Homo sapiens: one gene and its partners. The protein of the gene in region 1 purifies or fractionates together with the protein of each later gene. This does not show direct contact. Each region holds a gene or a part of one and is shown on either strand. Other genes may lie near its edges.

Region 1 (7,625 bases):
CAAGATTGTACCACTACATTCCAGCCTGGGTAACAGAGTGAGACCCTGTCTTGAAAAAAAAAAAAAAAAAACAGATTCTTAACGGCTGCATCACATACTGTCATTGGACTCCACCGGGATTTGTTTAAATATTCTTCTATGGTTGAACATTAAGATTATTACAGTTTTTTTGTTACTACAAATAATGCTGTTATTAATATCCTTATGTCCAAATCTTTGTGCCCTTTATTATTTACTTAGACTGGATTCCTAGAAGTAGAGGTGTTGGGTCAAGGGGTCTGGAAGTTTTGAAGGCCCTTGATTCATATTTCCAACTTACTTTCTAGGAAGTTCATATTAAATTATCCCCATTTCCACCAGCAGTGTATGACACTGCCTACTTCACCACATGGTACCTAACAGTGGACATTGTGTTAAACAAGAGAGAGAATGGTATCTAATCAGTGACCTTGCTAAAAGTCAATCTGATTGTAAACCCCCAGAGCCCACAGAATAAAACCCAAACCTCTGTGATGTATCCATGGCCCAGCAGAATGGCATGGCCACTGGCATGGCTACTGGCAGCCTTCTCTCAGGCGTGGTCAGAGAGGCTTGGGTATCTCTCACTCCTCTAGCCATGCTTCTCTGTGCCTCTGTTCTGGCCAGCAGAGGAAGCAGGGAGAAAGCCCTGGGAGGGGAATTCAGGCCTCATGCAGGGGCTGTGCTTACCTGTAGCCGGGGGCAGGAAAGGTGGACTGCTGCTTGCAGGGCAAGCCCAGTGCTCCCATCGTACAGATGGTACCATGGAGGCCAGGGCAAGGCAGGGAATGGAAATGCTCCGTGAATCTAGGTCAGTGTCCACTGCCTGTGCACTGAGTTATCAGAAAGAAAAGCTGGAAGAGGCTGAGCACCAGGCAGGGGCAACTATGGCAGGGTCCCAGGGCATGAGGTGAGGATGGGTAAAACAAGCTTCCTCAAGCCAGGTGAGGCCTGGATCCCAAGAAAGGGAGCACTGGAAGCTGCTGCTGCTGCTGTTGCTGCTGGGCGGGGTGAGGTGGGAGGAATGGGGTGGCTTCAGGCTTTGGGCTGGATGATTGGTGTCCCAGGGCCTGACAGGTCTGGGAATCTTGGACTTTGGGCCTTGTGATGGTTAATACTGAGTGTCAACTTCTTTGGATCGTGGGATACAAAGTATGAATCCTGGGTGTGTTCTGTGTGGGTGTTGCCAAAAGAGATTCACATTTGAGTCAGTGGGCTGGGGAAGGCAGATCCACCCTAATCTGGTGGGCATGATCTAATCAGTTTCCAGTGAATATAAAGCAGGCAGAAAAACGTGAAAAGGAGAGACGGGCCTAGCCTCCGAGCCTACATCTTTCTCCCATGCTGGATGTTTCCGTCCCTTGAACAATGGACTCCAAGTTCTTCAGTCTGGGGACTCGGACTGGTTCTCCTTGCTCCTCAGCCTATTGTGGAACCTTGTGATCGTGTAAGTTAATACTTAATAAACTCCTCTATCCTATTAGTTCTGTCCCTCTAAGAGAACCCTGACTAATACAGGCCTCATTGCTGCCTCTACTGTCACCTACCAGGGAAGCTGGGCCATTCTCGTCATCTGTGGACTCCGTCTCAGCTCTGCTCAGTTTTGGGAAGAACTCTAGGCTCTGCCATTGTCACCCCTACATTGACATGTTAATATCTCTATTTAAGAAACTTGTGCAGGGCCTAGAGTTGGGCAAGGCTGGACCTTGGGAGAGAGTAGAATCTGACACTCCCTGCTCTTGGAGTAATGCTGAAAACACAGAGGGGCACAGCAAGAGGAGCAAGGTGGGGTGGCTTCCTGGTGGAGGTGGCATTTGAGCTGGGCCTGAAGGGTCAGGCAGTCAGTCCTTTTACATATGGAGAAGTGTGCTGGGGATAGGGGAGGGGGTGCTGCCTCGTGGGGAGAAACAAGGAGAGCACAGAGCTGGGTGGTGCAGGGCATGTGGGGGCCACAACTGGCTGGTGTGTGTGGCTGTGAGGAGGGAGATGGGGTGGGAGGGGAGGAAGGCTGGGGAGCCAGTCAGGCAGGGCCAGCTTGTGAGGGCCTCAAATGCCCCACTGAAAAGCTTCCACTTTGTTCTGAGAACAGTGGGGAGCCACCTAGGGATTTCAGTGAGAAGAGTGATGCAATCACATGTGCATTTCAAAAAGATGCCCCATGAAGGAGAGATTGGAGGGAGGAACAGGACTGAAGTCTTGGGACCAGCCAGGAGGCTGGTGTGAAGGCCAGGGTGATGCTGAGAGCAGAGGGTGATTTGGGGGCTGTTCTGTGGCAGGATCAGCGGGACTTGGTGCTGCCTTGCTGGGATGAAGATACCAGACCTGTAGCCCCAGCCCTGCCATGTCTTCACTGGCATTGGCATACGATGGCCTCAGCTACTAACCTGAGACCTGCGTCTGTACAGAGCCCCGCCCTCCCTCACCTGGAGGCCCGACTCCTGCCCCACACCTTCCTGGCGGCCTCCTTCACCTCCTTGTTCCTCAGGCTGTAGATGGTGGGGTTCAGCATGGTCGTGACCATGGCATAGAGGACTGTGAAGACCTCATCAGAGATGTGGGCTTCCTTACTCTTGGGCTTCAAGTACATGAAGATGATGGTGCCGTAGAAAAGCAGCACTACAGCCAGGTGTGCCAAGCAGGTGGAGAAGGCTTTGCAGCACCTGGCGGCCGAGGGCACCCTCAGGATGGTGGCCAGGATGAGCAAGTAGGACAGGCAGATGAATGCCAGGGGTACAGGCAGCAGCAGGATGGAGCCCGCCAGCAGGAAGTCTTCGCTGACCGACGTGTTGCCGCATGCCAGCTTCAGCACTGCCAGGATCTTGCAGGTGAAGTGACTGACCACGTGGTGGCCACAGAAGGGCAGCCTCATGGAGATGACCATCTCAGTCACCGACTTGAGGAGGCAGAGGACCCAGGCAGCTCCCATCAGCAGCACGCAGAGCCGGTGGCTCATGAGCACGTGGTACCTGAGTGGCTGGCAGATGGCCAGGTAGCGGTCATAGGCCGTGATGGCCAGTAGCAGGCACTCCGTGGAGCCCGTGGACAGGCTCAGACACATCTGGATGGCACAGACAGCAAAGGAGATGGTCTTCCGGGATGACAGGAGGTGGACCAGCATCAGAGGCACAAAGGTGGGCGTGTAGCAGATGTCCAGGGTAGAGAGGTTGCCCAGGAAGAAGTACACGGGCGTGTGCAGGTGGATATCTAGCACGCTCACCGCCATGATGGCTGTGTTCCCCAGGAGGGTCACCAGGTACATGGCTGAGCACAGAGGGAAGAGCAGATGCTCCAGGGCTGGGTAGCCAGAAAATCCTTTCAGAAAGAACTCGGACACCTCTGTTCTGTTGAGCGGCTCCATGCTGCAGAGTTCTGAAGAGATGGTCCACAGCTGGGATGGAAGGAGAGAGGGTACAGGGTGCGGGGAAGCTCACAGAGCCCTTTCTGGGACGAGGTGGACTGTCAGGATCTTTTCCAGCACTGCCACACTCACTGTCTGTGACGTCGGGCAATCCCTTTATCCTCTCTAGGCCTCAGTTTATCCATGTGAAAAATGAGCATTGATTTAGATCAGCATTCCCTGAGAGAATGTTAATGAGAACATTAGTAAGCAATCTGAAAAATCAATTTGAGACAACATTGGATTAATAAAAAATAAAGCTCTTTACTGCAGGACTTCTCAGAGCGTTTACTACGCTAATGTGATCTATGACTCCTGCAAAGCAATGTAGAACATCTGTACCCCAAACTTATTTGATCATGGATCCCCTTTTACAGAAAACCCATTAACCTACTGCAGATAAGTGTTCTATGAGCATAGTCTGGGAAACAGTAGGCTAGATCAACAGTTCTCAAACTTTAACATGCACCAGAATCACCTGGAAAGTTTGTTAAAACAGATTGTTGGGCCCCAAACCCAGTTTCTGACTCGGTGCGTCTGGGCGATGCTTCTGCTGCTGATGTAGGTACCACACTTTGAGGAACTAGTGGGCTAGGTGGTCTCTGAGCAGGTGGAGATTCTCCTGGCTTTAAGGAAGCCTCTGAGCCATCGCATTTGCTATTCCTTCTGTCTGGAATGTCCTCGGCCTGCAGTGGTCTGACCTGTCTCTTCAGGCCTACTCTAGTATCCATGAACAAAGCATACACCGTGCTGTGTGTTGGAGGGCTGCTGACCTTGAAGCCTATCGCTGGGCATGTTCCCCTGTCCCCTGCCCAGGGCCTGTTTCATTAGCTACCCTGTGTGGATTGGACCTTCACAATCTGCCTTCCTGTGGGTTTCCCAGCTAAAATCTGATGGAGCTTTTGGCCCAGCTCCAAACCCCTATGTTCTGTGGGCCAGAGCGAGGGCTGCTTTGACTTCATGAACTCCTAGGGTATTAGCATGGAACATGACCAGAGGCCAACTTGTTGGATCTCCCATTGTATAGATGGGGATGCTGAGGTCACACAACAGGTCTCTGGTGAGGTGAAGCTAGAATCCAGCCCTCCCAACAGTGTGACCCCTATACCATGCTCAGAGCAGGTGTATGCTTCTATTAGGTTTCAAACAATGCTTGTTCTTTTACCATTCTAGATGGATATCAGTGCCCCAGGTGCTGCCACAATCCTCTCACCAGCAAAAGAGCATGAGTCACCTCTCCTTAGTGTTCCAGGGTATCTGGCACGGTGTCATTAATCCCATGGGACACGATGCCAAATCCTGGGCCTGGGTGGAGCACAGTTCCTCTCAGTGCCTTCCTTGCAGGAGACCATTTCCGTCTTTTATTCCACCCTCACTTACTCATCCCAGAACCTAGAAGTAACTGAGGACCTGCTACATGTCAGGTGGTGCCAGATGTGAGGGAGCACTGATGACAGGTGTGCTCCCAGGCTGCTGAGTGCAAACCCTTCCTAGGCAGAGAGGACCCCCAAGTCTTCCATACCCAGCCTCACCGTCCCCCCACTCTTCCGTACCCAGCCTCACCCACCCCTCCCACTCTCCCATACCCATCCTTGTCCTCCCCCACCCTCCCATACCCAGCCTCCCCCTCCCCTGACTCTTCCATACCCAGCCTCACCCACCCTTCCCACTCTCCCATACCCAGACTCACCCTCCCCCCACTCTCCCATACCCAGCCTCACCCACCCTTCCCACTCTCCCATACCCAGCCTCACCCTTCCCTCACTCTTCCATACCCAGCCTCACCCACCCTTCCCACTCTCCCACTTTTCCAAAAGTAACTATTGTTATTAGTTTTGTGTATATCTATCCAGATACTTTTCTGGCCATTTGCATATGTATATCTATACATGGAAATAGGTCTTGTGACTTTTTAGTATGCTTTTTTGTTGCAGCTTTATTGAAGGATGGTTGATGTACAACTATATTTAAATCATATAATTTGATTAGTTTTAATGTATACAGTCATGAAACCATGACCACAATCAAGATAATGAACTTATCTAATATACCCACAATTTTTCTCATGCCCCTTGGTAATCCATTCCTTTCTTCCCCAACCAGGCAGCCACTGATTTGCTCTCTGTAACTGTAGATTACTTTCATTTTCTAGCATTTTACATAAAGGGAATTATGCAGAATGTACTCTTTTTAAAATCTGGCTTCTTTCACTCAGCGTGATTATTTTGAGAGTCATCCATGTTGTGTGAATCAATGGTTAGTTCTTTTTAAAAATAGCATCTTTATTGAGCTATAATTCAAACACCATGCAGCCGCCCATTTAAATTCACCCATTTAAAATGTACAATTCAAATACAAAACTATTGCATTGTACACTTTAAATGGGTGAGTTTAAAGTGTACAACGGGTGAATTTAAAGTGTACAATGCAATAGTTTTGAGTATCACCACAGTTGATTTTAGAACATGTTTATCACTTCCAAAGGAAGCCCATACCCTTTAGCCATCACTCCCCTTTTCCCCTCAACCTCCTCCAGTCTTAGGAAACCATTAATCTACTTTTTGTCTCTTTTGAGCTGCCTATTCTGGACATTTTACATAAATGAAATTATAAAATATGTTTCCCTTTGTGACTGGTTTCTCTTACTTAGCTTAATGTTTTCAAGGTTCATCTATATTGTAGCATGTATCAGGACTTACTTTCTTTTTATTGCTAATTAATATTCAGTTGTATGGATATACCACATTTTATGTGCCCATTCATCAGTTGATAGACATTTGGGTTGATTCCACTTTTTGACTGTTACGAATAGTGCTGCTATGAACATTTGCATACAAGTTTTTGTGTGGATGTATATTTTCATTTTTCTTGGATATTTTCTTAGGAGTGGAGTTTCTAGGTCATATAGAAACTCTATGTGTATATTTTTGGGGAACTGCCAGTTTCCAAAATGGAAAGTATCATTTTACTTTCCCATTTTACATTTCCCCAATATGTGAGGGTTTCAATTTCTCCACATCCTCACCAACAATTGTTATTATCTGCTTTTTAAATTATAGCCATCTTGGTTGGGTGTGGTGGCTCACGCCTGTAATCCCAGCACTTTGGGAGGCCGAGGTGGGCAGATCACTTGAGACCAGGAGTTCGAGACCAGCCCGGGCAACATGGTGAAACCTCGTCTCTACAAAAAATACAAAAATTAGCCGGGCATGGTGGCATGTGCCTGTAGTCTCCGCTACTTGGGAGATTGAGGCAGGAGAATAGCTTGAGCCCAGAAGGTTGAGGGCTGCTGTGAGCCATGTTCATACCACCCTACTCCAGCCTGGGTGACAGAGTGAGACCCTGTCTCAAAAAAAAAATTTATATTTATATATAACCATCATAGTAAGAGTGAAGTGGTATCTAATTGTGATTTTGATTTGCATTTCTCTAATGGCTAATGACATTGAACATATTTTCAAGTGCTCATTGGGTATTTGTATATCTTCTTTGGAGAAAAAAATAGGCTCTTTAGCCTATTTTAATTTTAATTTTTTTTCTTTGAGATGGGGTTTCGCTCTGATACCCAGGCTGGGGTGCAGTAGTGTGACCTGGGCTCACTGCAACTTCTGCCTTTTGGGCTCAAGTGATCCTCCCACCTCAGCCTCCCGAGTAGCTGGGATCACAAGCACACACCATCATACCCAGGTAATTTTTGTGTATTTTTGGTAGAGATGGGGTTTCACCATGTTGGCTAGGCTGGTCTCAAACTTCTGATCTCAAATGATCCAACTGCCTCGGCCTCCCAAAGTGCTAGGATTACAGGTGTGAGCCACTGCACCTGGCCTAATTATGTATTTACATTTTACTTTACATACGTAAGATCACAGCCAAGGAGGTTAACTATAATTTCAAATTTTATTACCAGCCACTTGTGCTATTTTATCACATTTGAAAATATTCACTCTTACTATATTTACTTTAAACAGTGATCTATAAATTTGTTTAGACAATAATAATTAAGGACCTTTTCTTCTTCAGAATGATAAAAAAATTAATGATGTATTGAAGATACTACTAAAGAAACTTTACTTTTGGAGTATGGCCTCTGCATTGAAGATCTGTAGGATTTTTTAAAATTAATTTTCAAGTCTTTCCATGACCTCTCTGTTCTAAGAAATATCATCTTTGTAATAATTTGTGTGAATACTTTACAAATCAAAAATTGATT
Region 2 (5,698 bases), on another chromosome or scaffold:
CTCCACACCGTTGCTGGGAGACACAGGCGCTGTTTGCGCAACTCCCCTGGGAGAGGACAGCTGGAGCTCTGGCCTAGTCTCTCCTGGAGAGGGCATCTCCTGGAGGAACACCAGCCTAGAGAAGACCTGTGCATTGGGGGCTAGAGAGGGTGGGAGGTGACAAGGAGGGTGACAGCTGGAAAGGGTGACTGGATAAGGAGCCTGGCAGGAGTAAAGAGAGGGCATGGCTTCGCATATTGTAGGCCACTGGGAAGTGGGGGGAACAGTCTAGAAGGACGCAGGGGAAGCCACAGAAAGGGATGATGGGCATCTGGAGTTCTAGAGCAAGACGTCTCGTCTGTCTTGTGTGTCTATGCCAGTGTATTTGTCGAACATGGCCAGGAGGGGACTTGAGGACTGGTTCACAGAGATTCCCTTCTTTTCGTTTTTCTCTTGAACATGTTTTATCTTTGTAACTGAACAAGGTTAAAAATGAAAAGGACAACCCAGTAGCCCTGAGAGGCCGAGCTACAGGCTGGTGCCACATTCCTGGGGGGACCAGAAGGCCAGTGGCCTGGGAGCTTGAAGAGCAAGAAGAGGGCCTGGCACCCCTCTGGGCTGTGGTTAGAGTCCAGGTTTCGGGAAGTGAAGGGACTCCATGGAGCAACCAGGTTCAAGTGTGATTCGGAGGTGAGGTGCAGTAGCAGAGGGAAAGGAGAATTCTGAAAATGAAACAGGAACTGGGTGGGCTGTCCCCGAGGACACTAATGCTGGGGCCAGCAAGAAGGCTGGCATCTGCAGCAGCTGCAGCAGCCCCTGTGGCCGGCACAGAGATCAAGAAACAAAAGCCAGGCCGAGCATGGTGGCTCCCGCCTGTAATCCCAGCACTTTGGGAGGCTGAGGCAGGCAGATCACTTGAGTTCAGGAGTTCAAGACCAGCCTGGGCAACATGGCACAACACATCTCTACAAAAAATACAAAACTTAGCCTGGTGTGGTGGCATGTGCCTGTGGTCCCAGCTGCTTGGGAGGCTGAGATAGGAGGATCACTTGAGCCTGGGAGTTCGAGGCTACAGTGAGCTGTGATTGTACCACTGCACTCCACATTGGGCAACAGAACAAGACCCTGTCTCAAAAAAAAAAAAAAAAAAAAAAAGGAAAAGCCAGAATGCTATGGACTGAACTGTGCTCTCCAGTTCATGTGTTGAAGTCCTAGTGCCCAGTGTGGCTGGATTTGGAGTAAGGAAGTGATCAAGGTTAAATGAGGTCACCAAGGTGGGGCCCTGATCCTACTGGATTAATGCTCCTAGGAGAGGAAACACCAGAGACCTTGCTCCCTCTGTCCACCATGTGAGCACAGAGTGAGGAGGCGGCTGTCTGCAAGCCAGGAAGGAGCCCTCACCAGGAACTGGCCCCGCTGGCTCCCTGGCCTTGGATATCCAGCCTCCGGGACTTCGAGAAAGTAAGTGTCTGTTGTCTAAGCCTCCCAGTCTATGGTATTTTGCTATGGCAGTCGGAGCTGATGAAGACAGAGATAAGCGGATCCTAAATACCCAGGCTGTTTCTTCCTGATCTAATTGTGGGGTCCTAGAAACCTGCCAGTGTGCGGCTTCAGCTGCAGCCCACAGAGCTCGATGTGGGACTCTCTGTCCTTTCCATCAGGTCAAAATATTTCCTAATTTCTCTGGAGACTTTCTTTTCGCCCCATGGATTATTGATCAGGGTGCTGTTTGATTGATTTAAAATATGTGGGGATTTCCCAAGCTACCCACCCAATTGGAAGGGGCAATTTTTGGCTCTTATCATAGAAAGGGGAGCTGCGGGCAGTTTTCCTGGGCCCTGTCACATCCCAGCCATGTTCCTTTGCATTCTTTTGCTGACACCTTCCCTTGCGTCCTGTCCCTGGGTCCTGGTGTGTCACAGGCCTGAGCCCTCAGTGTGCTTCCTAGGGTGAGGACCCCAAGGCTCTGAAGCAGGGTTAGGGCAAGTGGGCCCATCACAGAAGCTGTCTGCAGGGCAGTCTGAAATGAGGGGCAGGGCTGTCACTCACCTGTCCCCAGACCAGCTCCCCAACACCAACAAACAGGCACCAGAGCCACTGTTCTGTGGATAGTGGGGAGCAGCTGAAGGGCTTCCCGCCAAACTGGACGATGACAATCTGCGAAGGGCAAGTGGGAGAGAGGCAGGTCCAGCCGCGGCTCCTGAGCCACCCTTGTCCTCCAACCCCTTGAAGACCCAGCCACCCTGGTTGGTTCCCCCAGTTGCACGGGCTGCTCCTTGCGAGAGGACCACAAGGCCGGGGGCGTGATGACAGAGCAGTGCATGGCCCCCAGCGCCCCTGGGTGCCAGGCACCTACTGACTCCAGCCTCGGAGTGGGGCCCAGCTCCACTGACCATGCTCCTATTTTCAGCAAGACGGAGGCTGTGACACCCACCCTGCGGGCACGCTGGACATGCCTCATTCTGGAGGACCCTAGAACCTGCCGAGGTCACCTTGTCTTGGCCTCCTGCCTCCTCGGGAGGCATCCAATTTGCAGGGGCAAGCTGTCCAAATGCAAACTGACCCCGTCCTCTGTTGGACTGTCACATTCCGGGCCACTATCCCCTTGCACTCATTACCCAGGACCAGGTACCAGACAGCCAGGGAGCACCCGTATGCCCTGGAACCGCTGCAATGACGCAACCTAGCCAGTCCTGAGCCTACCAGCCCTGCCTCACCTGCTCCTCCCCGAGGGAACCACAGCAAAGGCTCTTGTCCACAGCTCTCACACCCCACCTCCTGCCTGGCGCTCTCCCATGTGGGCCCCTATGGTGTGGCATGTGTCCTCCTCTTGGGGTCTCTGAGTCATAAACTGTCTTTCAGTGGCAACTGTCTCTTGACCTTTTGGCCTTACTATACCTCAATTTTTCTACAAATACACTATATTTTAGAACACTTAGCCCCTCCTAGACAGTGGGGCTGACCAGCCTGTCCACAGCACTGTGGGAAGCAGAGGTTAGTGTGTCAGCACTGGGCACAGAGGTCATCTCCAAAAGAAACTTCTGGAGTTATGGCAGCCTCATGCCAAGGAATTAAGTGCTAGAAATGGGAATGGCAGACCTAGAGGGAGCCAGGGAGGACTCCTTCCAGCATCTGTGAGAAAACTTCGTTCCGATGAGGGCTCACGAAACCCTTCTGGAAGCCAGCGCGCTCACCCAGGGCAAGGCCGGCAATGTTTGGAAGATGAAGAAGGCCCTCTCCGACATGCAGAGAGGACGGGGGCTACAGGAAAGCCAGGTGGGGTGGGGCTCCTTCTGGGAGTGGAGGTGGGGAGGCCAGTACTAGGGGTGGACGAGGGGTCTTGAAGCCCACCACCTCCACTTTTTGCAAGTGGCAGAGGCCAAGAGTGGAGCCGCCCCTCCTACCTGAATCCCGAAAGTGCCCAAAACGATGGTGCAGAAGATGGGGTTGCTGAAGATGCCGTCGAACACGTTCCTCTCGCCGTGGATCTTGCGGGCGTTGATCTCGTTAAAGAGCTGCATCATGACGAACGTGTTGAAGATGATGGTGTAGTGCTCTGAGGGTGGCGAGTGCAGGGGCGCATTCCTCCCGCTGTCGATGTCGAAGAAGAGCTCCCCTGGAAAGCAACATTCCCCACTCAGGCACAGTCATCTCAGCGCATGACGCATTACTCAGGAGCGAGACTTCGGTGTGTAGCTCCCGAGATGGGTCCCTTGTCCCAGGGGATGGCCACTTCCAGCTCACGGCCAAGGCCCAAGGCAGCCACACCCACCCCAGGCTCAACCAACCAGAGTCCTGAGACCCCTCTGGGCCAGGGGCCAGACCCTGAGCCTGAGGGCAGGAAGGAAGAGATTAAGAAGGGAAGTTCTTAAGGCTGGCTTTCCTCGGACGCCCTCCTCCTCTTCCTCTCTCTTGCGGTCACCCCCCACCCACCTCACAGCTTCCAGCACGGCACCCCAGTCACTCCACAGGAGCAATCTTCACAGGGTAAATGTGGGCTGTTCTGTTCCTAGGGTTACCGTGGCCACTCTGGGGCTGGGTAGAAGCTGCCTACTCTACACAGCTACACAGCCGTGGGCAGGATGTCAAGACATGAACTGTTTCTCAGCTGCTCAGCGGCCTGGGAGGAGAGGCTTGCGAAAGAGCTGTAGGCCACCAGCAGGCCTGGCTGCAGGGTTGCTAGCCTGGCCCATCTGCTCCTTCCCCTGTGTGCTGTCCAGTCAGGAAGTGCAGCGTCCCACCCCGTACTGGGTGCGGAGACACAGGTGGAGACACACCAGACAGAATCTGAGCCCGAGGTGGTGGCAACAGTGTCCTGAAGTCCTCCCGGGTGCCCCTGGCCAGCCTACCGACAAACAGCAGGGTGAAGATGATGGCGAGCTGGTACACGGCGTGGCCCAGAATGTTCTTCATCATGGTGCGGGAGATGAGGGGCTTGTCGCGGCCGTACGGCTTCCGCAGCAGCAGCGACTCTGTGGGTGGCTCCGTCGCCAGGGCCAGAGAGGCAAATGTGTCCATGATCAAGTTCACCCACAACATCTGCACGGCTTTGAGAGGAGAGTCCTATGGAGAGGAGGCAGTCACCTTTCCATGGGCCGCCTGCCCGGGAAGGTTGGGGGTGGAAACCCAGTAGCTCCTGGGGGCTCCTCATGGGGTCCACATCACCAGGATTTCATGCCCATGAAAACAGACATCTCCATCCCTACATCGCCTTTACGCTAGTGGGGCGTTTTCTTTGGGCTGTCACGTGCCCGCCTCCCTTCTCTCACCTGGCAGCAGGTGTGCTCCAAATCCCTCGCAGGAGGTGAAAAACCCCAGACCACAAAACAGCCCGACGATGGGGTCTGCCATTTGGGGCAACAGAGTGAGGGCTGCTCTCCTTGTCTCCTGCACCTCAGGGGCAGGAGGAGGCAGAAACTCTGAACTGGACCTTCCTTCTCAGCTCCTCTGAGTTGTTCGTTAAAAATCAGCCTCACAGAAGCCAGACACACAAGGCCACGTACTGTCTGATTCCATTCATAGGAAACTTCCAGAACTGACAAATCCATAGAGAGAGAAAGCAGATGAGTGGGTGCCAGGGGCTGGGGTTTGGGGAGTAGAGAGTGACTGCTCACGGGGTCTGGGTGTCCTTTTGGGGTGATGAGAATGTTCTGGGAATAGACAGTGGAGGGATATAAACCTCGGAGTTATGTACTTTCAAAAGGTTAAAATGGTTCTGTTGAAGTTTGTTATGTGATTTTTTATCTCAATTTAAAAAATTGTTTTGAAAAGACCAAGTTGATCAGCAGGCAATTTAAACACCCCCTTTCTAAGGCGGGGTGAAGAAAATCTGGACACTCACCAATGGGGAAAATGGGACTGTTGAGAAAGGGTTCCCATGGGACGCATAGCCCACGCAGAAACTCATACACAGATGCTCCTGGCAGCACCATTCACAAGAGCCAAAAAGTGGGAACGAGCCATGTGTCCATCAGGGCAGACATACATAATGTGGCAGTCTGTGCCGTGGAGTGTTATGAGGCCATGAAAAGGCAGAAAGTCCTGCCCTATGCTACGGTGTGTGTGAGCCTGAAAACACGGTGCTAAGCGAGATGCCAGACACAAGAGGCCACATATTATTTGATCCCATAGGAATGAAATGTCCGGAACAGGCAAATCCATAGACCCAGGAAGCCTGTGAGTGGTTGCCGGGGGCTGGGATGTTTGGGGGAGAAATGGG
Region 3 (3,500 bases), on another chromosome or scaffold:
TGTACACTGAGGGCAGGCACTGTGTCTTACCTGCCTCTGTATCCCCTATGGGACACATGAAGGAATGAATGAAACAACTAAATGAGCTCAGTGCAATGGAAGGTAATAAAGACTTGCTACTCCTACAGAATTCAGTTGAGAGGAGTCAGCTCTGAACTTCAACACATTCACAATATGCACGTGTATGCAAAATAATCAGTTGATTATAATGCAGAGTGATTAAAACTGCTAGATACACATGAAGTTGGTTAGAAAACACTTTTAGAACAGTTATAGTTGGTATTCTGAAAGAGAGTTTAACCAATGTTCGGTGAAGAAGAGATGGGAAAATATTCTAGACAGAAATAATGTGTCGTTTCAGAGGCTGATGTAGGGCCCAGAACACGATTCATAGTGACAAATTTAATTCCCTCATGGTAGTACCGAAATGATACGAGATTCCATCACTAAGTGCCTCACCACTTTGTCGTGTGCCAGAAATCACATCTCATGGGCACCATCTCATGACAGTGCCCGTGTTACTCATCATCACTAACACCTGGGAAATCAACCCCTCTGGGGCATATTCTGAATGCTTTCTGATGCCATTCAATTTTTTTTTGTACTCCCCACGCTTTCCTTCTTAAAAACTTGTTATTATGCCAGGTGCAGTGGCTCACACCTGTAATCCCAGCACTTTGGGAGGCCGAAGAGGGCGGATTACTCAAGGTCAGGAGTTTGAGACCAGCTTGGCCAACATAGTGAAAACCCATCTCCCAAACACAGAAAAATTCGCTAGGTGCAGTGGCGTGCGCCTGTAGCCCCAGGTACTCGGCAGGCTGAGGCAGGAGAATCGCTTGAACCTGGGAGGTGGAGAATGCAGTGAGCCAAGATCATGCCACTGCACTCCAGCCTGGGTGACAGAGCGAGACTCAGTCTCAGAAAAAAAAAACAACACAAAACCTGTATTTAAAGGAATAACTCTTCCCTCTAGTGGATCACAGAGAAATTTCTTTTTAAAGAAATTTCTTTTCAAGAAAACAGCCCATTTTCATTCAACCCAACTACTTTTAGACATACCCACTCCAAATAGTTAGCAGCCTTTTTAGGCACACGGTACATGCGAAATGGCATCCCAAACTACCGTAACCATTTTACTAGAGGTAAGAAATCTGGGAGAAAGTAAATCAATCTTGAGGCTCTTTTAGAAAATAAAGCAAAACACATGAAAACAATTAAAGCAACTTTACAACGTCAAGATAAAAAATTGTTTTGTATTCAAATTGTTTTTATCATTAGAAGGGCTTTAAAATGGAGGTAACTATTAGACTGCGTTTAATTTTATTTGTAGGAAAAGCCTTTGAGGAATTTATATTCTAGACATAATGAATTGTCAATTTATACTCTACCAAAAGAAATCTTAATTACTAAAACTGAGTTCTCTCTTTCCAAACTGTCTGCTGGCTGGGTGCGTTGGCGCATTCCTGAAATCCCAGCACTCTGAGAGGCCAAGGTGGGAGGATCACTCGAGCCCAGAAGTTTGAGACTATCCTGGGCAACATGGTGAAACCCTGTCTCTACAAAAAATACAAATATTAGCTGGGCATGGTGGTGCACGCCTGTAGTCCCAGCTACTTGGGAGGCAAAGGTGGGAGGATGGCTTGAGCCTGGGAGGTAGAGGCTGCAGTGAGCCAAGACTGCACCACTGAACTCCAGCCTCAGCAAAAGAGCCAGACCCTGTTTCAAAAAAAACAAAAAAAAATTGATTGATTGCTAAAATATCAATAAGATCTGTAGCCAAAACAAACAAACAAACAAAAAAAAAAACTAGTTAAAAATCAAGTGCATCATTGTTTTTTCAAATAAATTTACTTACCATATATATAATTACAAAAACTCGCGCTATGGGGTATCTTCGGAGAAAAATTCCCAGGCGAATACTGTGCAGACACAGGTGTGAGGGGGAGAGGAGAGAGAAGAGTCACAGTCAAAACAAATCTTCCTGTGGTAATATCTAATGATGCTGATAAATTTAACTCATTTAAACTATTTATGTGGCTACCACAGAAGAACAATTTTTATAGCAGACTGTTAAATGATTACTTGAAATAATAATATAAAAATGTCATAGAGGTAAATAAATGCTTTTATCATTATTTGGGGCTTGGCTGTTAAACTTCAGCACAGGTATTTCTCTTAATTCTACAGCCACAACTGTAGGAGGCAAACTTGATCCCTAATTTTTTTTTTTTTTGAGACGGAGTTTCTCTCCTGTCGCCCAGGCTGGAGTGCAATGGCGCGATCTCTGCCCACGGCAACCTCTGCTTCCTGGGTTCAAGCAATTCTCCAGCTTCAGCCTCCCGAGTAGCTGGGATTACAGGTGCGCCACTACCACCACGCCTGGCTAATTTTTTTGTATTTTTAGTAGAGACGGGGTTTCGCCATGTTGGCCAGGCTGATTTCAAACTCCTGACCTCAGGTGATCCGCCTGCCTCAGCCTCCCCAAAGTGCTGGGATTACAGGTGTGAGCCACCGTGCCCGGCCTAAATCTTTTTTTAGTGGAATTACAGAAGTTACGAAAGATTAGGTGGGTGTCAACTATGTGACTGGGGAAAAAAAGAGTCTGGTTGGCATTAACCTGCAAATAGCTAATCTAGAAGCTTTTGTATAGATACATGCTTCTAAAAGGTACAAAGCTATAAACTCATGCATTTGAATAAATAGTGTGGAAGCAATATGATGTCCAGATCTATTATGCCTCTGCAACATTTTTTTCCCTATCAAGACAGATACATGCAGAAGCAATACCCCTTTCTGCTTCTTTCATTGCCACTAGCACAATGTCTTGCACTTAGGTTCTCTAACAACTACGTATGTTGAATAAATGAATAGTTGAACTAGATGTGCTTAATTTGGACATAATGGCTATGGCATCCTAGTTCTGAGGCTTCAGTCATCTTGGTATATCATTCTTATTTTTAATACAATAGCTCAATTCTGACACAAAAAGGTACAAAAAGATTATTATGCCACAATTCATTAAAACTTTTCATTATAAACACTACAAAGAAAAAGGGTACAGTAGGTTATTTAGACAAGAACCTTATCAATGCTATATGTAAACTATTAAAATATTTTTTTGATAAGGCAGATGTCTGCTAATATAAAAAATTTACATATACATAAACATAAATTTTGTTATTTATATAAAATATATAATACAATGAGTGCTGTTCAGCTATATATAGTAGCATCTTTTATTCTAATAGCATGATAAAATTCTGGGATAAAACATTCAAATGGATACTTTTACATGAAGTAGAGGCTTTCTCAATAAAATTTAATGAAGTTTTTAAAAATAGAATTTATTATAGAAAAAAGAGATACAGTCAGGGTTAATCATCTTCAATAAAATGTAGGCATTGGCAGACCTCTTGACATAATTTCTGACATGATATTTCAAATATCATGAAAGAAGTCACTTCATGAAAGTGTAATATAACTGTGAAATAAATAAAAGT
Region 4 (8,198 bases), on another chromosome or scaffold:
GCATCATATATGAATGTCTGGTAGCTACACAAAGCAACAGAGATATTACATAACCTTCAGAGAAAAAAACTTTTCTACACAAATTTTATAAAACCATGGACTAACTTTCCAAGGTCCAATTCTATGTAATTCTCTTGTATTTTTTAAAGATATTTAGAAAAATGCAAAAAGAACCCAGGCTAGCCCCAAAAATGTCCACCTTATAAAAAAATATATGCCCAAGTTTGGTCTAGATTCTATATTTTGTGGTGGAAAAAGCAATATGCTTCTTTAACTCTTAAGATACAAGCTAAAGGCCAGGCGCGGTGGTTCATGCTTGTAATCCCAGCACTTTGGGAGGCCAAGGTGGGCGGATCACCTGAGGTCAGGAGTTCAAGAACAGCCTGGCCAAAATGGCAAAACCCCATCTCTACGAAAAATACAAAAATGAGGTGGGCATGGTGGCAGGCGCCTGTAATCCCAGCTACTTCAAAAATAGAGGCTGAGGCAGGAGAACGACTTGAACCCAGAGGCAGAGGTTGCAGTGAGCCAAGATCATGTCACTGCACTGTACTCCAGACTGGGTGACAGAGGGAGACTCCGTCTCAAAAAAAATGAAAAAAGACACAAGCTAAAGTAGATTTAATTGGTTCTGTTGCCCTTCTGCAAATTTTTGTACAAATTATTTTCCTCTTTCAAAGTTCACACTATTTTACTTCATTTATAATAGCCTTATTGAAATATAATTCACACATACCATACAATTCACCCATTTCAATGGTTTTAGTATATTCACAGTTGTGCTACTGTCACCACAATCAATTTTAGAATATTTTCGTCACCCCAAAGAAATATTGTGCCCATTAGCAGTCACTCTCCATTCTCCCGCCGCACACCTCCCAACCAACTTTCTGTCTATATGGATTTCCCTAAATGGACAGTTCACAGGAATGTAATAATACAATATGTGGTCTTTTGTGACTGGCTTCTTTCACTTAGCATAACATTTTCAAGATTCATCCACGTTGTAGCATGTATTACTATTTCACTTTTTTATGGCTAAATAATATTTCTTTGCATGGATATACCACTTTTATTTATCGTTCATTAGTAATGGACATTTGAATTGTTTCTACTTTTTGGCTATTATGAATAATGCTGCTATGTATATTTGTATGCAAGTTTTTGTGTGGACATGTGTTTTCAATTCTCTTGGGTGTATATACCTTGGAGTGGAATGACTGAGGCATACATGGTAACTCTACATTTAAACTTTTGAGGAACTGCCAATTTTCCAAAGCAGCTGGACCATTTCACATTCCCAACAGCAGTGTATGAGGGTTCCAATTTCTCGACATCCTCACCAGCCTTGTTATCTTTTTTATTATAGCCTTCCTACTGAGTGTGAAGTGGTATCTTACTGTGGCTTTGATTTGCATTTCTCTGATGGCTAATAATAAGGAACACTTTTCATGTGCTTATTTATTACTTATATATCTTCCTTGTAGAAATGTCTATTCAGATGCTCTGCCATTTTTACCTTGGTTGTTTTCTTACTGAGTTGTAAGAGTTATTTTATATTCTAAATACAAGTCCCTCACCAATTATGATTTGCTAAGCTTCCTCCCATTCTGTAGGTTGTCTTTTCACTTTCTTGATGATGTCCTTTGATAGTCAAAAGTTTTTCATTTGGATAAGATGCAGTTTTTCTTTTGTTGCTGTTACTACACTGTTTTTAAAATAATTTTATTTGGAGGAAGATTCATAGGTTTGTTGACTTAGGTAAATAAAACAAGCTAAACTTGTATTGGTATTTCATGTTAACTACCACTTCCTTAATCATGCGTACTTACAAGTAGCTTCTAAGTACTGTATTTAAATTTCAACTCTTGGAATAGAAGGAGTTTCTGTCCTGCTACTAAATGGCCTCTCTCCTGCTACTAAACATAAGCCAATGTATGATATGCTCAACACTCCTTTGCTCATGCTATTCCCTTCTCTAGCCTTTCCTCTCTAAAAATGTTATCATTCCTTCCTAACACAGCACAAATGTCTCATCCTTTAAGTCCCAATGGCTCCAACCAGACGTGACTTTATAATGTTGTGTTGGGACCTACATGTAATCTGAGTGCCTGTCTTACCTCTTCTACTAGTAAGACAGTTTCTTCATTCTACCTTATTCATTTTTGTATATTGCAATTAATACATGCTTAATGAATGACATCACCATTACTGCCTTTTTTTCCCATCAAGACTCTAAAAGTCATAAGTAAAGTGGAGTGAGACTTCTGCTATAACCCAGAGAATTCTATGATTCAACTTAGCAGTACTGGGGGAAAATATTGTGAAGTAAGTATCACCCAGTACACATCAACTTCCTCTCTGAATTGCAAAGACCACGCATAAAGGTTGTATCAAACAAGAATATCATTCTGATGGAGAGGGGAAATCGTCAACATAAGTTTCTTGCCTTGTGACCAGTCGTCTTAAATCAATTTTGAAAGCAGTCAGAATACAAAGTAGAAATATGTAACTAGTGATTTAAACTGAATTCATTTAATAAAATCTATCTCTAAAGCATATTCAGTTTTGGAACTTCAAGGAGATGCTCTGCTCGTATACAAAACACCAGCGTCCCAAAGGCAATCAATGAAACCTGCCGAAATGCTTCCTTTCAAAAGTAACCACCCTCAGTTCTAAGACAATTTTAAAATCAAGTGCTAGAAGCACAATAGAGATATATGAACCCCTACTATTTACGATCTATAATTCCTAATTATCTTAACTTTGTCTTAAGGGTAGGTTGGTATTCTTTGAGGAACGACAGGAAAATGACAACCATAAGATATCCCCTATCCCTCACCCTCAAGTATATAAAAAGTTGTGAAAATTTACAAATATCTTAGAAGGAGGTCACGATACAAAAACTAAAATGAGTATTTTCAGGCTTTAAAATCAGTTCATTTCTTTTGGAGGCCATTTCTTCCACAGGAAGAGTGATTGATTTACTTACATATTTTAGGCTGATCTGAGATTTCCGTAGGTGCACCCTCAAAAGACTGAATAATGTCCCAATAAACAATTTACTGAATAAAAACCCCATTTAGACTGCCATTACTGTAGTGGATATTACCTGTACATCATACCCATCCCAGCCTTTGTTCTGACACTGTATGACTTTTGGGGTATAAGAATCACAACCAGCTGTGCCTCCAACACATTTCAACTGTGGGATGGGATCCAGCCTGCGGGAGGTGGTATAGCGGTCATAGTGGAGGGTAAGAGCTTTTACATCCCGCAGCAACATTCTGTCTGAAACAGCAAGAAAACAGAGGAACACAAAGTAAGTATCGTGTCAGAGAAAGAAAGGTTCATCCTAACGAAACTCTCGTCATAGGAAATGCCTTTCTTGCCTTCTGAGGATGGCTAAGAGAGGATGAATCTATTTCTCAAAACTATCCCAACAACATTCAGGCCTTCTGAACAAAATTCAGGTCACACTTTTAAGATCTCCCTGCATTTCAGGCCAGATGCTTCTACAGCACAAGTTGTACATCATTTTTGCTAAATCAAAAGAACAAAAAGTTCATTAACCTGAAACATTGTACTACTGTGTAATAATAATAGTGGTTAATTAAAATGGCAAGAATATAAGCATGTTCCTGAAGCACATTTAATGCTTTAAATGTCCATCAACAGGTGAAGAAATTAACACATTCTGACCTATTACAGTGGAATATTACATAGCAGTTAAAATGAGTGAACTAGAATTCATGTATCAAACTAGATAGATGGCAAAAACATTTTAAACAAAATACAAGTTGCAGAATGTTTTGTATGACAGCTTTACATAAACCTTTAAAAAAGGCAAAACAGTACTACATACTGTTAATGTCTATATATGTATATAATAACAACATGAAAACATGTATGGGAAGGATTTAACACCAAATTCAAATAAGTATCTAGTCTAGGGAGAGAGAAAGAAAAGAGATTTTAGCTCTATTCCTAATGTTTTATTACTGGGAGTGGGGGATTTGTAGCAAATATGGCAAAATATAAAGATTCAATAAAACTGGGTGATGACTATGTGTAGGTTCATTGTACACTTCTGTATGTTTAAATACTTTAGGTATTTCATAATTTTAAAAATCAAAACTATTTAAACTATTTCACAAACTAAAAAATTTAAAACATACTGACAAGAGACTTTGAAAGGAGGAGTCAAAACAATAAAATTATGTCTGGCATTCATGTGCAAAAATGAAATTTTTAGGTTGGGTGTGGTGGCTCACACCTGTAATCCCAGCACTTTGGGAGGCCGAGGCACGTGGATCACCTGAGCTCAGGAGTTCGAGACCAGCCTAGCCAACACGGCGAAACCCCATCTCTACTAAATATACAAAATTAGCCGGGAGTGGTGGCACATGCCTGTAATCCCAGCTACTTGGGAGGGTGAGGCAGGAGAATCGCTTGAACCTGGGAGGAGGAGGTTGCAGTGAGCCAAGATCACACCATTGCACTCCAGCCTAGGCAACAAGAATGAAACTCCATCTCAAAAAAAAAAAAAAAATGAATTTCTATGCATTATTGGAAAATAAGGACAAAGTCTTCCTATTTATCATGTTGTGGATTATTGATGGAAGATGCTGTGGATTGGCTCAGTCAACATCCACTTCACCCTCAAACAGGTATGCCTTCCTGCAAAGCAAAAGGAATCCCAAAACCTCTTGCAGCTATAGTTGCCAAAAGCAATTTCAGTTCTGCCAACCAGAGGGACTCGAGCAAAATCTGGAAAGCAGACCCTAGACTTATACAGTGCTCTGTCCTTCAGCTAGTAAACACAGGCATGGAGACCATGAGTTTTCAAACTGATAGTATCCTCTAATCAGCTTCCTGGCTGTCATGAAGCTTGACATGAACAATCTATTTTTCAATGTGGCAGATGTAATAGGCATCGCTTTCTACCATTTTGTGAGTACCCAATTCCCTATATTCAACCTGTCAGATTAGCAGAATTTGCAGCCTCCCAAAATTCTACTAAAACTATAATAAATACATTGTTTTGATGATGTGAATGACTGTGGTCAGGTAAAACGAAAGAGGAGATGACAGCAGAATTTTGGAAGGAGAAAGTAAATGGACTAGTGGTAGATGACTAGACCTAAGTGAAAGACAAATGCCAGAACAGCAAAGGGGGAAACTGAGAATCAACCTGATGTACATAACAGAATCCCTAAAAAAAAACAAAAAAAAAAAAACAAAAAACGGGAAATGGCAGCTCTGGAATGGGAGATGCCTGGAATACACACTACAGGGTGAAAGCTACTTGAGAGGAAGCCATATTCCCAGATCCTCTCCCCAACTCCACACTGTTCTAACTCCCTCTTCCCCACTAAGGAAACTGTCTGGAGATGTATTCTCTGGAGAGGATAAAACTGAAGGGATTTGCATTGGGGACCATCTGGCATAGTAAAGGGCATGGGGACAAAAACAACCAAACAGGGAACCCAAGTGACTGTGTGCACTCTGACTGCTGAAAGCACAGTTCTCCTTCCCCACATGGTGCACAAAATGCTAACAGCCATCCCCTTGTCCTCTGTGGGAGACTGGATGACTATTCCCTTGGTAATCTAACCAAGAAGAAGTACCTAAATACACTGACATCAGGAACTTCCTCCAAAAAAGAGCAACCTAGGTCACCCTGTTGTGAAGTTCAAAATCAAAAGTGCAACTGCACACTGATAGCTTCCAATGAGCTTTTTGGTTCCCCAGAATTAACCATGAGCAGGGAGCCAAGGATTACTAAAAATATGAGGAAAGTCCCTGCTATGGTTTGAATGTGTCCCCCAAAGTTCACATGTTGGAAACTTAATCCCCAATGCAACAGTGTTGAAAGATGGAATCTTTAAGAGGGCTCTGCCCTCATGAATAGATTAATGCTGTTCTTGCAGGACTGGGTTAGTTATCGCAGGAGTGGACTCCTGATAAAAGGATGAGTTAGGCCCCTTTCCCCTCTCTCACTCTCTCCCTTCTGCCTTCCACCATGGGATGACACAGCAAGAAGGCCCTCACCAGATGCTAGCACCTTAATATTGAACTTCTCAGCCTCCAGAACTGTGAGAAATGAATTCAGTTTTTTAATAAATTTCCCAGTCTGTGGTATTGTGTTACAGTAACATTAAACAGACAAAACAGCCCCTAACATGAAATACAGCAACCAGGACAAAACAACAACAAAAGGAAGCAGGAGGAAAAAAGAGATGACGCACAAGAAGAAAACTTTTTTAAAAACACTGTAATATCCTCAGAGAGATAAGAGAAAAAGACTGCGTTAATAAAACAATCATTTTTAAAAGGGATACTCAGAGAAAAAACAAGAGCTTTTGGAAATTAAAAACAGGACAGCCAAGATTAAAAACAACAGAACTGCCAGGTGCAGTGGCTCATGCCTGTAATCCCAGCACTTTGGGAGGCCAAGGCAAGCAGATCACTTGAGCCCAAGAGTTTAAGACCAGCCTAAGCAACATGGCAAAACCCTGTCTCTACAAAAAAAATTATAACATTAGCCAGGTATGGTGGCACACACCTGCAGTCCCAGCTACTTAGAAGGCTGAGGTGGGAGAATCACCTGAGCCTGGGGAGGTCGAGGCTGCAGTGAGCCATGCACTCCAGCCTGGGTGATAGAGTGAGACCCTGTCACAAAACATAAATAAATAAATACATACATACGACAGAACTGTTAAAAGAAAATCTTCTAGAAAGTAGAGCAAAAAGAGGCCGGGCGTGGTGGCTCATGCCTGTAATCCTAGCACTTTGGGAGGCCGAGGCAGGTGGATCACGAGGTCAAGAGATCAAGACCATCCTGGCGAACACGGTGAAACCCCGGCTCTACTAAAAATACAAAAATTAGCTGGGGATGGTGGCGCGTGCCTGTAGTCCCAGCTACTCGGGGGGCTGAGGCAGGAGAATTGCTTAAACCCAGGAAGCAGAGGTTGCAGTGAGCCAAGATTGTGCCACTGCACTCCAGCCTGGCGATAGAGCAAGGCTCCATCTGAAAAAAAAAGGAAAAAGAAAAAAGAAAGTAGAGCAAAAAGATAGAAAGTAGGAGAGAAAGGCTGGGCACAGTGGCTCACGTGTGTAATCCCAGCACTTTGGGTGGCCGAGGCAGGCAGATCACAAGGTCAGGAGTTCGAGACCAGTCTGGCAAATATGGTGAAACCCCGTCTCTACTAAAAATACAAAAATTAGCCAGGCATGGTGGCGGGCACCTGTAATCCCAGCTACTCAGGAAGATGAGACAGGAGAATCGCTTGAACCCGGGAAGCAGAGGTTGCAGCGAGCCGAGATGGTGCCACTGCACTCCAGCCTGGGGGACAGAGCTAGACTCCGTCTCAAAAAAAAAAAAAAGAAAGAAAGAAAAAAGACAGTAGGAGGAAAAAAAAAAAAAAGAAAGAAAGAAAATTACCAGTTCAGGACCAGTTCAGAAAGTCCAAAAATCCAACAAGGGCTTCTGAAAGAATGAACAAGGGAATCTGATTAGACAAACTCCAGGCTGTAATTCAAGAAAAGTTCCCACACTGAAGGACTTGAGTTGTCATACTGAAAGGGCCCAACAAATACCCAGGCCTGAGAAACAGACCACACAAAGGCACACGAAAAGTAAATTTTAGAACACTGAAGACAAAAAAAGATTCTACAAATTGCCAGAAGAATAGGGAGAAAACAAGCCATATAGAAAAGATAAGACTTAGAAAAGCTTCAGGTATCTCAACAGGATAGAAAAAGAAAATGGAGAAATATATTCAAAAACTCTAAAGGAAAAAGTCTGGCTGGGTTTGCCAACCATCGCTTTGCTAATGGTGGAACAAACTGATGTTACAACATCTCCTATGATGTATTTCCCACAAGTATTTAATATGAATCTAATCAATCTAATAAACTTAAGGTCAATACCCTATCTATATAAAAAATATATATAGAGAGAGAGACCTAAATATACTTCCAACCAGGAACCCAATAGGGTTTTTTGGGGAAAGAAATTATGTTAAAGGTCCTGTGGACAATTTTTTTTTGAAAAAGAACACATAGGTTACCAGATAGTAAAGGTTACTATAAAATTATTATCATCAGCCAGGCACGGTGGCTCACGTCTGTAACCCCAGCACTTTGGGAGGCCAAGGAGGGCAGATCACCTAAGGTCAGGAGTTCGAGATCAG

What was found.
Region 2: the proteins of OR13J1 (region 1) and ATP2B3 purify together in Homo sapiens (affinity purification with mass spectrometry; one large-scale study listed by BioGRID and IntAct). This does not show direct contact.
Region 3: the proteins of OR13J1 (region 1) and GOLGA5 purify together in Homo sapiens (affinity purification with mass spectrometry; one large-scale study listed by BioGRID and IntAct). This does not show direct contact.
Region 4: the proteins of OR13J1 (region 1) and SARAF purify together in Homo sapiens (affinity purification with mass spectrometry; one large-scale study listed by BioGRID and IntAct). This does not show direct contact.

The regions. Positions count from the first base shown.
Region 1 is NC_000009.12:35,867,026-35,874,650, forward strand, and holds OR13J1 (olfactory receptor 13J1), read right to left. Parts: upstream 3,377-7,625; coding exon 2,438-3,376; downstream 1-2,437. UniProt on the Homo sapiens protein: Odorant receptor.
Region 2 is NC_000023.11:153,558,573-153,564,270, reverse strand, and holds part of ATP2B3 (plasma membrane calcium-transporting ATPase 3), read right to left. Parts: intron 4,543-5,698; coding exon 4,329-4,542; intron 3,596-4,328; coding exon 3,384-3,595; intron 2,137-3,383; coding exon 2,029-2,136; intron 1-2,028. UniProt on the Homo sapiens protein: ATP-driven Ca(2+) ion pump involved in the maintenance of basal intracellular Ca(2+) levels at the presynaptic terminals. Uses ATP as an energy source to transport cytosolic Ca(2+) ions across the plasma membrane to the extracellular compartment.
Region 3 is NC_000014.9:92,835,805-92,839,304, reverse strand, and holds part of GOLGA5 (golgin subfamily A member 5), read right to left. Parts: intron 1,920-3,500; coding exon 1,856-1,919; intron 1-1,855. UniProt on the Homo sapiens protein: Involved in maintaining Golgi structure. Stimulates the formation of Golgi stacks and ribbons. Involved in intra-Golgi retrograde transport.
Region 4 is NC_000008.11:30,070,765-30,078,962, forward strand, and holds part of SARAF (store-operated calcium entry-associated regulatory factor isoform 1 precursor), read right to left. Parts: intron 3,292-8,198; coding exon 3,113-3,291; intron 1-3,112. UniProt on the Homo sapiens protein: Negative regulator of store-operated Ca(2+) entry (SOCE) involved in protecting cells from Ca(2+) overfilling.